Homo sapiens: one gene and its partner. The protein of the gene in region 2 interacts with the protein of the main gene of each other region in a pairwise test. Each region holds a gene or a part of one and is shown on either strand. Other genes may lie near its edges. The genes, in order: TARDBP and CCIN.

Evidence for each region.
Region 1: the proteins of CCIN (region 2) and TARDBP interact in binary tests that used the Homo sapiens proteins (3 or more experiments, as listed by UniProt).

What each region holds. Positions count from the first base shown.
Region 1 is NC_000001.11:11,022,654-11,026,285, reverse strand, and holds the end of TARDBP (TAR DNA-binding protein 43), read right to left. Parts: coding exon 3,632-3,632; 3' UTR 794-3,631; downstream 1-793. UniProt on the Homo sapiens protein: RNA-binding protein that is involved in various steps of RNA biogenesis and processing.
Region 2 is NC_000009.12:36,164,406-36,172,064, reverse strand, and holds CCIN (calicin), read right to left. Parts: upstream 2,678-7,659; 5' UTR 2,563-2,677; coding exon 796-2,562; 3' UTR 731-795; downstream 1-730. UniProt on the Homo sapiens protein: Required for both nuclear and acrosomal shaping during spermiogenesis.

The DNA of each region.
Region 1 (3,632 bases), on a different chromosome or scaffold from region 2:
CAAGGACTATTTGGCAATACATTTTAAGCAAGACCAGGCATGTTCAGGGAGGGTGGCAGGCCACAGACTGGCAATACATTTCAAAAGCCCTTAAAAAGCATGCATAATCTTTGACCTAGCAATTCCAATGCTAAGAATTTATTTTAGCAGTAAGGATATTCCCAGCAATTGGAAATAACCTGAATAATGTTCAAATTCAGAAGACTGAATCAAAACATGGCATTTCCACAAGATGAAAAGTGGCATTAGAAATAAGTGGTGACATTATAGAGAAATCTGTATTTTTCCTCTTTACAATGAACATGAAATACTTGGGCACAGTGATGCCTAACAAAAGCACACATCACACAACAGTTAAGTACAGAACCCTAATACACACTTAGGGGCTACTTTGCTCATACTCAACAACAACAAAATCATTCTTACTGTTACACATTATCTCTTGGATTACGGAGTAGTTAACTTCCTACTTTTTCCTACTAAGGACACAACTTAAGTGCTGATTTAACTTTAAAAATCTCATTTGGTTTTAGCTGGCTATTCCTTCCTAAAAGGTTTTAATAGCTAACATTCAAGTTTTTCAGTCTAACTAAAAGTTACCATTCCATGTAAAAGCTTACTGTGAGTCTTGGCCTCATTTCTCTTGTGCATATGAAGTACAACTTCTTGAGACTCAATTTTTATTATTTTCTTTTTTCTTTAGAGACTCAATTTTTAAAGGTAACTTTCCAGCATCTGTATATCACATATAAAAAGAAATCGTGTTTTTCCAGTAAGACTCCAGACACTAAACTGTGGTGTCAAAAAAAAATTTTATTTATCTGGTTCAAAAAATTTTTTAGAATGAATGCATTTAGATTGACCAAATAGATTTTTAAAAACAAATCTTTGCCAAATAGTTTAAGTACTTTTAAACTTCAAAATCTTCTTAGGGTAAAATAAATACCCGTATCTATGCAGTACCATAAACATGTTAATAAAAGGCCACTCAACATTGAAAGCCTTCTATGACCAGTAACTGAAATTTACACAAGTGTAAAGAAGGGATTAAACCATGCCGTTGACAAGTTAACTTACCCCTGGGCTCCTTGAAGGCTTGTCAGTTTAGTCTTTGGAGGTCCCCGAGTACCATTTTAAGTGTTACCATGTTACTGCTGCTGAGTAATAGTGCAAGTGCTAAAATGCAAAATTCAGATGGTACAGGGTTTGGAAATCATGCAGATTCAGATGCAGAAAAAAAAAATTAAAACAACTCAAGATCCCTTTACAGAGGAAACTGAATAATGAAACAATGTGGCGATTACAAGTCTAAAGGATGACTTCATTGATAAATGTTTATGTAACTTGCAAAATGACAAACCTATTTATCATAATCTAATTAGGTAAGGGCATTAGGTAAACTACCAACACAACAAATATCACATTCTTCCAACTAGAAAATGAGCTCAACTCTCACAGAATTAGTTACAAAAAAGTACAACAGAGAATCAATGTTATTGCTTTTACATACTTAACAATGCATTGTGAGAGTGTGAGTTTTGTAAGCGATTTTATTCAACTGTATTCAATGTTACCACATTCCCCCACCTCCTGGAGGACAAAGCCCATTCCACTTAACACTTCCAGACAGACAACCCACCCTAATTCTTAAAGCTATCAGGCCTCTTAATGGATTTCAGGCACAAGATAATTTGTGGTTTCTTCTACTTTATCCCTACTGCAATTAATTCCACTTTTCAAATCCCAAACTAGGAAGGTGCTGATATTCCCTTTTCAATTGATATGCTTTGCTACAAAGCATTAGAAAATAATCAACATTTTGCCCACTCCCCCAAATAAGAATCTTTTTAGAAGGCATGACTTCCCAATGGAGATTTACACAGGCCATGTAAATAGAACATCACCCAAATGCACAGAGGCACTAAGAAAAAGCCGGAGGGTACTGCTTACCATTTTAGGTGCGGTCACCCAGACTTATTCAAAACTAGATTTCAAAAGAAAAAAAAAAATTTTCACTTTGGCCAATGCAAGAACAAATACCAATTAAGTCTGGGTATCAGGTGTCAATGCATGACAGGTGATGAATCCATTTGACTTGAGACAACTTTTCAAATAAGTTTATTTGAAGCAAAATAAACTACTGCCAAGAAACTTTATGAAAGTTCCATCTCAAAAGGGTCAAAAAAGGGGAATTAACTGCTATGAATTCTTTGCATTCAGGGCTGCAAAACAAAGACACATATTATTTAAATCAGTTTTATTTAAGAATTTCCAACAATGACAACTCTTATAAAAAGCATCCAAGCACAGGACACAGAACTGCAGCAAACAGCATTCTTATGGGTAGCTAACAGACATTAGAACTTCCACCCTTCTTTGAGACACCTGAGCTCACTGGTGAACTCTGCTTCAAGTCCTCCTGCAAAGCACACCACAAGCTCAGTCCATGTTCTCAGCCCATCAGCTTCAGTTCACATTGCCACACTTACATATCAGTAACAGAAGAGAACACACACCATACAGCATTCACAGCAGTTGACAAAGGGGTAGGGGGAGTACAAGTATCATTTCACTTAACACATTCATCTAATGTGGGTTATCTAAGAACAAAAACTCACTTAAAAGTCTTCCAACAGATGTGGATGTCCTTTGAATGCAAAAAACATTCGTACATTATTTGCTATCATTGCTCTCTGCACACTCTCTCACCAAAGCCACAGGATTGAGAGACACATCTCGCCAAGTTAAAAAATATCCATTATGCACCACCAAGTCTCTGCACGCGCTCTCTCCTTTTCTCGCTCATACTAGCCTTTCATGCCTCGGCACCACCATCAATCCCACACAAGGTTTCAAAAGTTCAGACAGCCTTCTGGTTCCATATCACAGCCTTGCGTTCATAGCGTTGATACGACTCCATGAAATAAAGAGTAGCGGATAAAAATGGGACACCCACCGTCAAAGACGCGGCCTGTGATGCGTGATGACGAATTCTTGAATGAGAAAGCATGTAGACAGTATTCCTATGGCAGAATATTTACAGCACTACTTTCAATGAAGTGCTTCTTCCATAAACATTTGAAATGAGATGAACTGCAGAGATTAAATGAAGGCTTCATATTGTACTTTTGTGTATGAGGGGAGACAAGTGTTAAAAAACAAAACAAAAGAACCAAACACTGTGACACCATGATCTCCTAAAAGGAGATTTTCTTAAGGAAAAAAATCCATATGGTGGGGTTCAAATTAAAACAAGGGGTAAAGAATGTAGTTCTAATCAATGGTTTCCGTTTTGAACATGCAAAGAATTCACTTGACAAGTCCAGGGATAAAATATTACAGGAGAAACCTTTTGATATCAATTGTAGTGTGTTGGTTTACCAATCAGGCAAACAGCAGTTCACTTTCAACCACTCAATATTTCAACCTTTCATGTAACAAAACTTATAAAATTCCTTTAGCTCTTCCTTTTTCTAAAGAAAAATGTCAAAAATACTGCTGAATATACTCCACACTGAACAAACCAATTTTGAAAATTCTTAGTACATATGTATTTTACAATATACTTACCATGAGTTTAGAAAAATTTGAATTCCCACCATTCTATACCAACCAACCACAACCCCACTGTC
Region 2 (7,659 bases):
TAGAAACGGGATCTCACTTTATTGCTTAGGCTGGTCTCAAACTCCTGGGCTCAGGTGATCCTTCTGCCTCAGCCTTCCGAAGTGTTGGGATTACAGGCATGGGCCACTGTGCCCGACCAGGATATGTTTCTTTCTTTTCCCTTTACTGGCCTCTCTTTTATCCCCAGTCCCTCAGACTCATATTCCTGGAGAAAGTTCTCAATGTACTTGGCTTAGTAGAAACAATTGTAAGGAACCTCCAGCTTTCCCACAAATGAGACACAAACTACCGTAGCTGCATGGGCAAATACAGAAGCTAAGTAACCTTGCCTCCCCTGTTCCTTCTGCCTTCTTTTCTGAGTCTTACCCAGGTCACCTTCTCCTTCCTGGCCATGAGATTCCTCTCTCAGACCTGGGACGGGTCCTCCCCTGCTTTTGTGAAAGACCGGAGGGAAGCAGGTGCTGGAGGAGCTTGATGCTTCACAGCTCTGAGTGGATGTTTACCTGCCAATCTAGCAGATGCCTGAGAGGTGATCACAGGGGTACAGAATAGGGGACAGACATCGCCTTGGCCAGTGCCTGGGAGGGGCCTCAATTCCACCCACCAGGGGTTCCTTTCCAGGCCCTGTTGGATACCTCCAATGACATAGTGGCCCTGAGTTTCCACCCACTGGGAGCAGCCCTCCCCTAGGATCTCCACCTTCAGGGCCAAGCATGGACTGGAACACTAAGAAGGAAACAACAGGCCATCTTCCTCTCTTTCTCTCATTAAATCGTGAATAATAATGCATTTACTTATTCTCCCACTTAAAATGTTTAAATCCTTTGAAGAATCTTGCAAGGTAGCTTGGCTAGACAGCAGGCAGGACAGTCCAGTGCCTCTGGTGGAGGAGCCAGGGTCTTCCACTTGCCTGTCTTTTGGTCCAGCAAGAAGGCATTTGGATTGATGGTGTAGTCCTTTGTCTGGACATCGCTGGCAGTGGTGACACCCCCACATACAAACACCTTGCTGTCTCCAATGGAGCATATAGCATGGGACACATCCAAGGGGCAGCTGTTGGGCAAGACAGGCACTGAGGTGGTCGTCTTGCTTGCCTTCACCTTCTGCAGATTGATTTCCACACTCTGCCGGTGGCTGTGCACGCAGAGGATGTTGTCCTGTTGGAAAGAGAGCAGGGGCCGATGGTTGAACTCAATGGGGAAGGTGATACACTGGACCACGTCCCCAGTGCTGGTGTCAAAGCAGTCCACTACCCCGACCCGGGAGATATAACCTTTCACCAAGCACCGTCCAGTGACAATGTACAGATGCCTGTCTCCTTTAGTGATCACGGCGGTGCCATCCATGGGGATGCTCATCTTTCCTGCCAGGCACCAGACTTCCTTCCGCTCATCATAGCGATAGATGTTGGAGACATACCGCCTTGGGGCAATGCTCCCGCCCACTGAGTACACTGTCCCCCCACAGGTCACCATGGTGTGGAAGACAAGCCCGATGGGCAGGTCAGGCAACTTGGTCCAGGAGTTGTCATCCATGTCATACCGCCAGGCTGTCTTCAGCCCTGAAATCTGCTCAGTGGTGCCACCAGAGATGTAGATGTAGCGACCAGCAGAGGTGGCACTAAGTGCTGCTGCCCGATAGGGCATGTCTGAGAGCTTCATCCACAGGTTCTCCTGGATGATATAAGCAAACACTCCATCATTGAACTGGCCGTGGGCCTTCTGGCCACCGAGGATGACCACGGAATCAAGCAGGGCCCCTTTCCGCTGGTAGACCAGCAGGCTGCATGGCCGCTCCTGCTTGCGGTCCATCAGGACACTCTCAATCAGGGTTGTATGGGATGAGGTGTTCTCCATGCCCACCAGCTTGTTGCTGGCAAACACCAGCGTCTTATTGGAGACAGCATTGAGATTGATGTAATTGAAGAACTTCTTGAAATACTTCTCCCGATCCTCCTTCCGGAAGTACACCCAATTGATGAGTGCGCTGAGCGCCTGGTCTTCATTGAGCACGTGAAGGTTTTCATCACGGAGCAGGCGGCCAAAGATAACAGGTGGACAGCGCATGAAGTGCATGGAGCCCTCAGGACTGGCCCAGTAGTGGAAGTTGTCCCGAATGCCAGAGTAAGCTACGTCTGATACCTCTTTGAGCTCAAACAGCTCAGCCAAGAAGAGGTAGCGCAAGCAGTTGGCACGGCAGATGGACTTAATAAGGAAGTCGTTACAGTGAACTCGAAGGCGTGGTGTGTTGAAATACTGAGCCCCACGAAGCAGCTCCTCCACATTTTGCTCGGAGATCACCACCTTGCCGCTATAGAAGTAGTCCAGAAGCTGGTCCACTGTGACCGGGCTCAGGTAACTGGTGTCAATGGTGATGAAAAGCTCATCAGCGGTCTTCATGTCATTGCTGGAGATGAGGCTCCTCACCAGTGGGGAGACAGCAGCCAGCACATTGCGATGTGCAAAGAAGACGTGGTTGTCCACACTCAGGGCCATGTCCCAGTACTCTTTGCGTTTCCTCTGTCTGTTCAGGTTCTGCAGCACGAAGCTATTGTAGTTTTTCTCCGTGAATTCCAATTTCATGGTGCCTCTTGTCGGCTGAAACAGATCAGCAGCAGGTACTGGAGAGCAGACTTTCTCAGGCCTGTGGGATCAGATTGATGGTTGTTTGCAGAGCGGTTGACCAGGGAGAAGAGAGGGTGGAAGAGAGGATGATGTCATAGAGTGGATCAGGTCATCACAATGCAGGCCTCCCTGAGGCCTGTCTCAGAGGCACTGGGCCTTCCTCCCCTCTGATCTCTCCAACCTGCCAAGGCCACATACCCTAGCAGGACCTAAAGCCCTGGGCCCAGAGCTCAGGAGGAACCTCAGGGATGGGCGGCAACTTCCACCTGGGACTTTCAAACCGTAGTTAAAGGCTTCTGGAATATCAGAGCCAGTCTGGGTGGGGCAGTGGGGAGCAGTTTGTGTAGGAGAGATAAGGGGAGGTGGGGAAAGGGAAGAGATTATTAGACCTAGAAGAATCCTCCCATTTTGAGGGAAACTGAGGCCCAGAGAAGAGAAGGCACTTGCCCAAAATCACATAGCCAGTTGGAAGCCGAGCAGGGCCCAGAACCTGGGGAACCTCGCATTCTTCCTACCCTTCTGGAAGCTCCTGACTACCCAGCTTTCCCCAGTCTCTGACTCTCAACTCTCCAAGCACTCTTCCTGCCAAGGCTCCTGGGCATCAGAGAAAAGCTCTGTCCTTTGGCTTCTGACCTTGGTGGCCACAGACATCATTCTCCTTCAAAATGGAGAGGTGGAGGCCACTCCCTGGAGCAGGGATGAAGGAGTTAACCACAAACGGGGGCATGGGAGGGTCTTTAAAGACCGGATGATTTCAGCTCCTTGGCAAACTAGAATGTTCCCCCAACATTTCCAAGTGTCCAGTTGGAAAATGTTGGGGGCTTCAGTGGGTCAGCTTTCTCCATCAAAGGTGGACTTGGGCGAGTTGATCAGACTTTCTAAACCTCAGTTTCCTCCTCTGTGAGATGGAACTAATATTTGATAGTAGTACCCACTTCAAAGATTATTATGAGTTTATTTTTATTTTTATTTTTATTTTTTTGAGACAGAGTCTCGCTCTGTCACCCAGGTTGGAGTGCAGTGGTGCGATCTCAGCTTGAAACAGCCTTTGCAAAATTATGACTGAGACAGTGAAAGAGATCAACTTAACTGACTCCATCTTGCTTCTAACCTCCAAGCTGTCCTTGCTCATTCCTTGGCAAAGGCTGAACTAACTTTGGGAGAAACCTATATGTATAGTTTACGGTTTAAACAAAGACAGCCCTTTCCCAAAGCAGACCTCCTTCTTGCCTGGGGACTAGATTGCCTTTGTAGGACTAACATTAGCCACAAGATTAGAAATTATGGTTTAGGAGTCATGTAGCTGGAGGCTACAAGATTCTAACCCTCCCTAAACTGCTCCTAAGACCAGTGCTTGAGATTTCTCTTTTTTTTTTTTTTTAGACAGTTTCGCTCTTCTTGCCCAGGCCGGAGTGCAATGGTGCGTTCTCGGCTCACCACAACCTCCAACTCCCGGGTTCAAGCGTTTCTCCTGCCTCAGCCTCCTGAGTAGCTGGGATTACAGGCATGCACCACCACACCCGGCTAATTCTGTATTTTTAGTAGAGATGGGGTTTCTCTATGTTGGTCAGGCTGGTCTCAAACTCCCGACCTCAGGTGATCCACCTGCCTCAGCCTTCCAAAGTGCTGGGATTACAGGCGTGAGCCCCCGTGCCCGGCCGGTGCTTGAGATATTTTGCAGAACCTGCACTTGATGGATCAGCTGGCACCACTCAGATCAATAAACTGGCTCATCTGATCTTGTGGCCCCCAGACCCAAGAACTGACTCAGCCCAAGAAGACAGCTCCAACTCCCATGATTTCATCTCTGACCAATCAGCAGCACTCCTGGCTCACTGGCTTCCCCCTACCCACCAAGTTATCTTTAAAAACTCTGCTCCCCCAATGCTCCGGGAGACTGATTTGAGTAATAATAAAACTCCAGGCCGGGCGCGGTGCCTCATGCTTGTAATCCTAGCACTTTGGGATGCCAAGGTGGGCGGATCACCTGAGGTCATGGTTTCGAGACCAGCCTGGCCAACATGGCAAAACCCTGTCTCTACTAAAAATACAAAAATTAGTTGGGAGTGGTGGTGCATGCCTGTAATGCCTGTAATCCCAGCTACTGGGGAGACTGAGGCAGCAGAATCGCTCGAACCCGGGAGGCGGAGGTTGCAGCGTGCCCAGATCGCACCATTGCACTCCAGCCTGGGCGACAGAGTGAGACTCCGTCTCAAAAAAAAAAACCCCAAAAAACAAAAACAAAACCCTCCAGTCTCCCGCACGGCTGGCTCTGTGTGAATTACTCTTTCTCTGTTGCAATTCCCCTGTCTTTTATTACCCAACCCCCCAACCCCCCTCACCCCCCACCCCCAGTAGCTGGGATTACAGGCGCCTGTCAACATGCCCGGCAAAGTTTTGTATTTTTAGTAGAGACGAGGTTTCACCATGTTGGCCAAGCTGGTCTCGAACCCCTGACCTCAGGTGATCCGCCCGCCTCGGCCTCTCAAAGGGTTGGGATTATAGGCGTGAACCACCGTGCCCGGCCTATTATTAGAGTTTAAATGAGAAAAGGACTGGAGAGTAGTGGGCTTGTCATAAAGCTCAATCAATGCTAGCTGCCGTTTTCTTACTCATATTACACCAGTTCGCCCAGCGCCGGCGTTCGTGGCTGCTCCCTTCATAAAAACTTGTGGTCATCGTGGTTCTGGTTTCGCGGTAGCTGAGGAGGCTGTGGCTACCTCGCGTCTCTTCTGGGCCCGCCGCCCGAACCCAGTCCAGCCACGCGGTGGCGCTGGAGGGTCGTCCCCGCCCCCGAGCGCACCGCCTCTGCGCCGGGCACCACCCCAACCCCTCTCCAGGATGGAAAAGAGGCGCGGGGCGTCCCCTTTTTCGCTTTGCCTCCACGCGCCACCGTGCAAAGGCGGCAGCGCCGTGCCGTCCGCCGCGACCCTGGAATTCAAACGGCAGGATCGGGGGCTCTCAGCCTTGCAGGACTCCTTAGATTTCCCCAGACACACACCTGTCCCCACTTTACAGATGGGGACGCTGAGCCCCCAACGGAGGCGCGCCCTCCAGAGGCCAGAAGACTGTCTCCGACTCCCAGTAACAGCTGGGGGGGTTTCCTGACCCCTGCGAGTCCTTTGCGGGGAGAGAGGAGGGTGCCCGCAGACTCGGACAGATTCCTGGCTGGCGTGGGGCTCCCGGAGTCCTGTGGGGCGTCTGTGGAACTGCTGTTCGTGCAAGAAGGGGATAAGCGCCAGCTGGAGCGCCGCGGGCGGGAGGGAGGGGGAGGCAAAAGAGCCCAGTAGCCCCACCCGGACCAGCCTTTGGGAAGAGACCCCAGAGAAGGGCCTGGACTTGCATCTCGCCCAGGCATTCGCGAGAAGGTACAGAAAGGACTTACCTCTCTGATCTCCTCCAATCTGGGCCCAAGCCCCACTCTAGACCCTCGGGCCGTCCTCAGTGCCCCTCCCGGGAAATTTCAGTATCAGCCTCGGGAATCTGAGCCGTTCCAGCTCTTTCCCTCCCTGGCTTAGTCATATTCTCATTCTCATTGTCTCCCTCCCTCGTCCGTTCATTCCAGACTAGTCTTTTCCTTATTTTTAGATTTGGTAACTTGAAAATTATTTGAAAATACGCCCCTTCCCTTTTTTTTTTTTTTTTTTCTGAGATGGAGTCTCACTCTGTCCCCCAGGCTGGAGTGCAGTGGCCCGATCTCGGCTCACTGCAACCTCCGCCTCCCGGGTTCAAGTAATTTCTTGCCTCAGCCTCCCAAGTAGCTGGGATTACAGGCGCGCGCAGCCACGCCCGGCTAACTTTTGTATTTTTAGTAGAGACGGGGTTTCACCGTCTTGGCCAGGCTGGTCTTGAACTCCTGACCTCGTGATCCACCCACCTTGGCCTCCTAATGTATGGGATTACAGGCGTTAGCCACCGCACCTGGCCAAAAATACCCTTTTAAACTGAATTTGTCCACCTTCCCGCCCGAATGCGATAGAGAGACTCGGTCTCTTGGGATATGATACGTGCACAAAGTGAAGAACTTCTGTTTTCCCCATTGGAAGTAGACTTCAATTTCAGCCTCCTCCTCCGGAGACCAGTCTCCCTGGGAGAATAATTAAGCCCTTAATGCCTCTTCAGCCCTTACCTTCTGCAAAGCAGCAGCAGCAACTTGGGTGAATGATGAGGCCTCTTGGTGCTGATGCCAGACACCTTCTGGCTCCCATGGACATGCAGGCTGGCAGATCTCGCCTCCTGGGACATCTTCACCCGGGAGCAGGGGGTGGGTGGGTCAGGCCCTGCTGCTTCACACCTCCTTTGTCCTCTCCCCTGCCCTCCCACCTGCAAGCTTCAGCCTTGGGAGCATTTCAGTGGAGGAGGTGGCCATGCCTGTTTGTTTTTGTTTCAGCTCCCAGAGCACCAAGGCAGGAATGAGCTCTCTCATCAGACACTTCCAGCATTAAGTTGGGTCTGGAGGTGTCATGGGGACCTGAGAGAACTGATAGACCTAACTCCATGTGACAGACCTCGTACAGGTGGATAAATTGAAGCCCAGGGAGAGGAAGAGGCTTGCACCAGAGAGCTGTCTTCTTCCTCTGCCCTCTGGCTACAAAGGAGAGCCGCGGTTTGGTTTGTCCTTGTTCTTTTTGGATTGTGAGGCTTGCCATCTTCAAGAAATCCTTAAAAGTGAGATTAGTGCCCACCTGCTCAGCCAGCTTTGCTGTCTGGCATTTCTTTAGCCCAGGAAAGCTCCCCGGTCCAGCTTTTTCCTCAATCCAGCCAACTGTGGAAACAAACTCCAGCCCATAGAGGCTGGCTGCATGCTGGCTTCCACCACCTGGTTGTGTGTGTGTGTGTGTGTGTGTGTATGGGGGTGGGGGGGGTGACCCGAGGAGCCACCAAGAAGTTCATTGGCTGGCAGCTTGCCAGGTGGGGCCAGAAAAGGATCTCAGCAGGGTCTTTTCACCCACCGTCAGCTTCCTACCAGGCGCCACATTTTCTGTTCATGGTGTCTCCCGTTAGGAAGAGATGGTATGATTCTAATCTTTGGGGACTATCGGCTGGTATATCAGT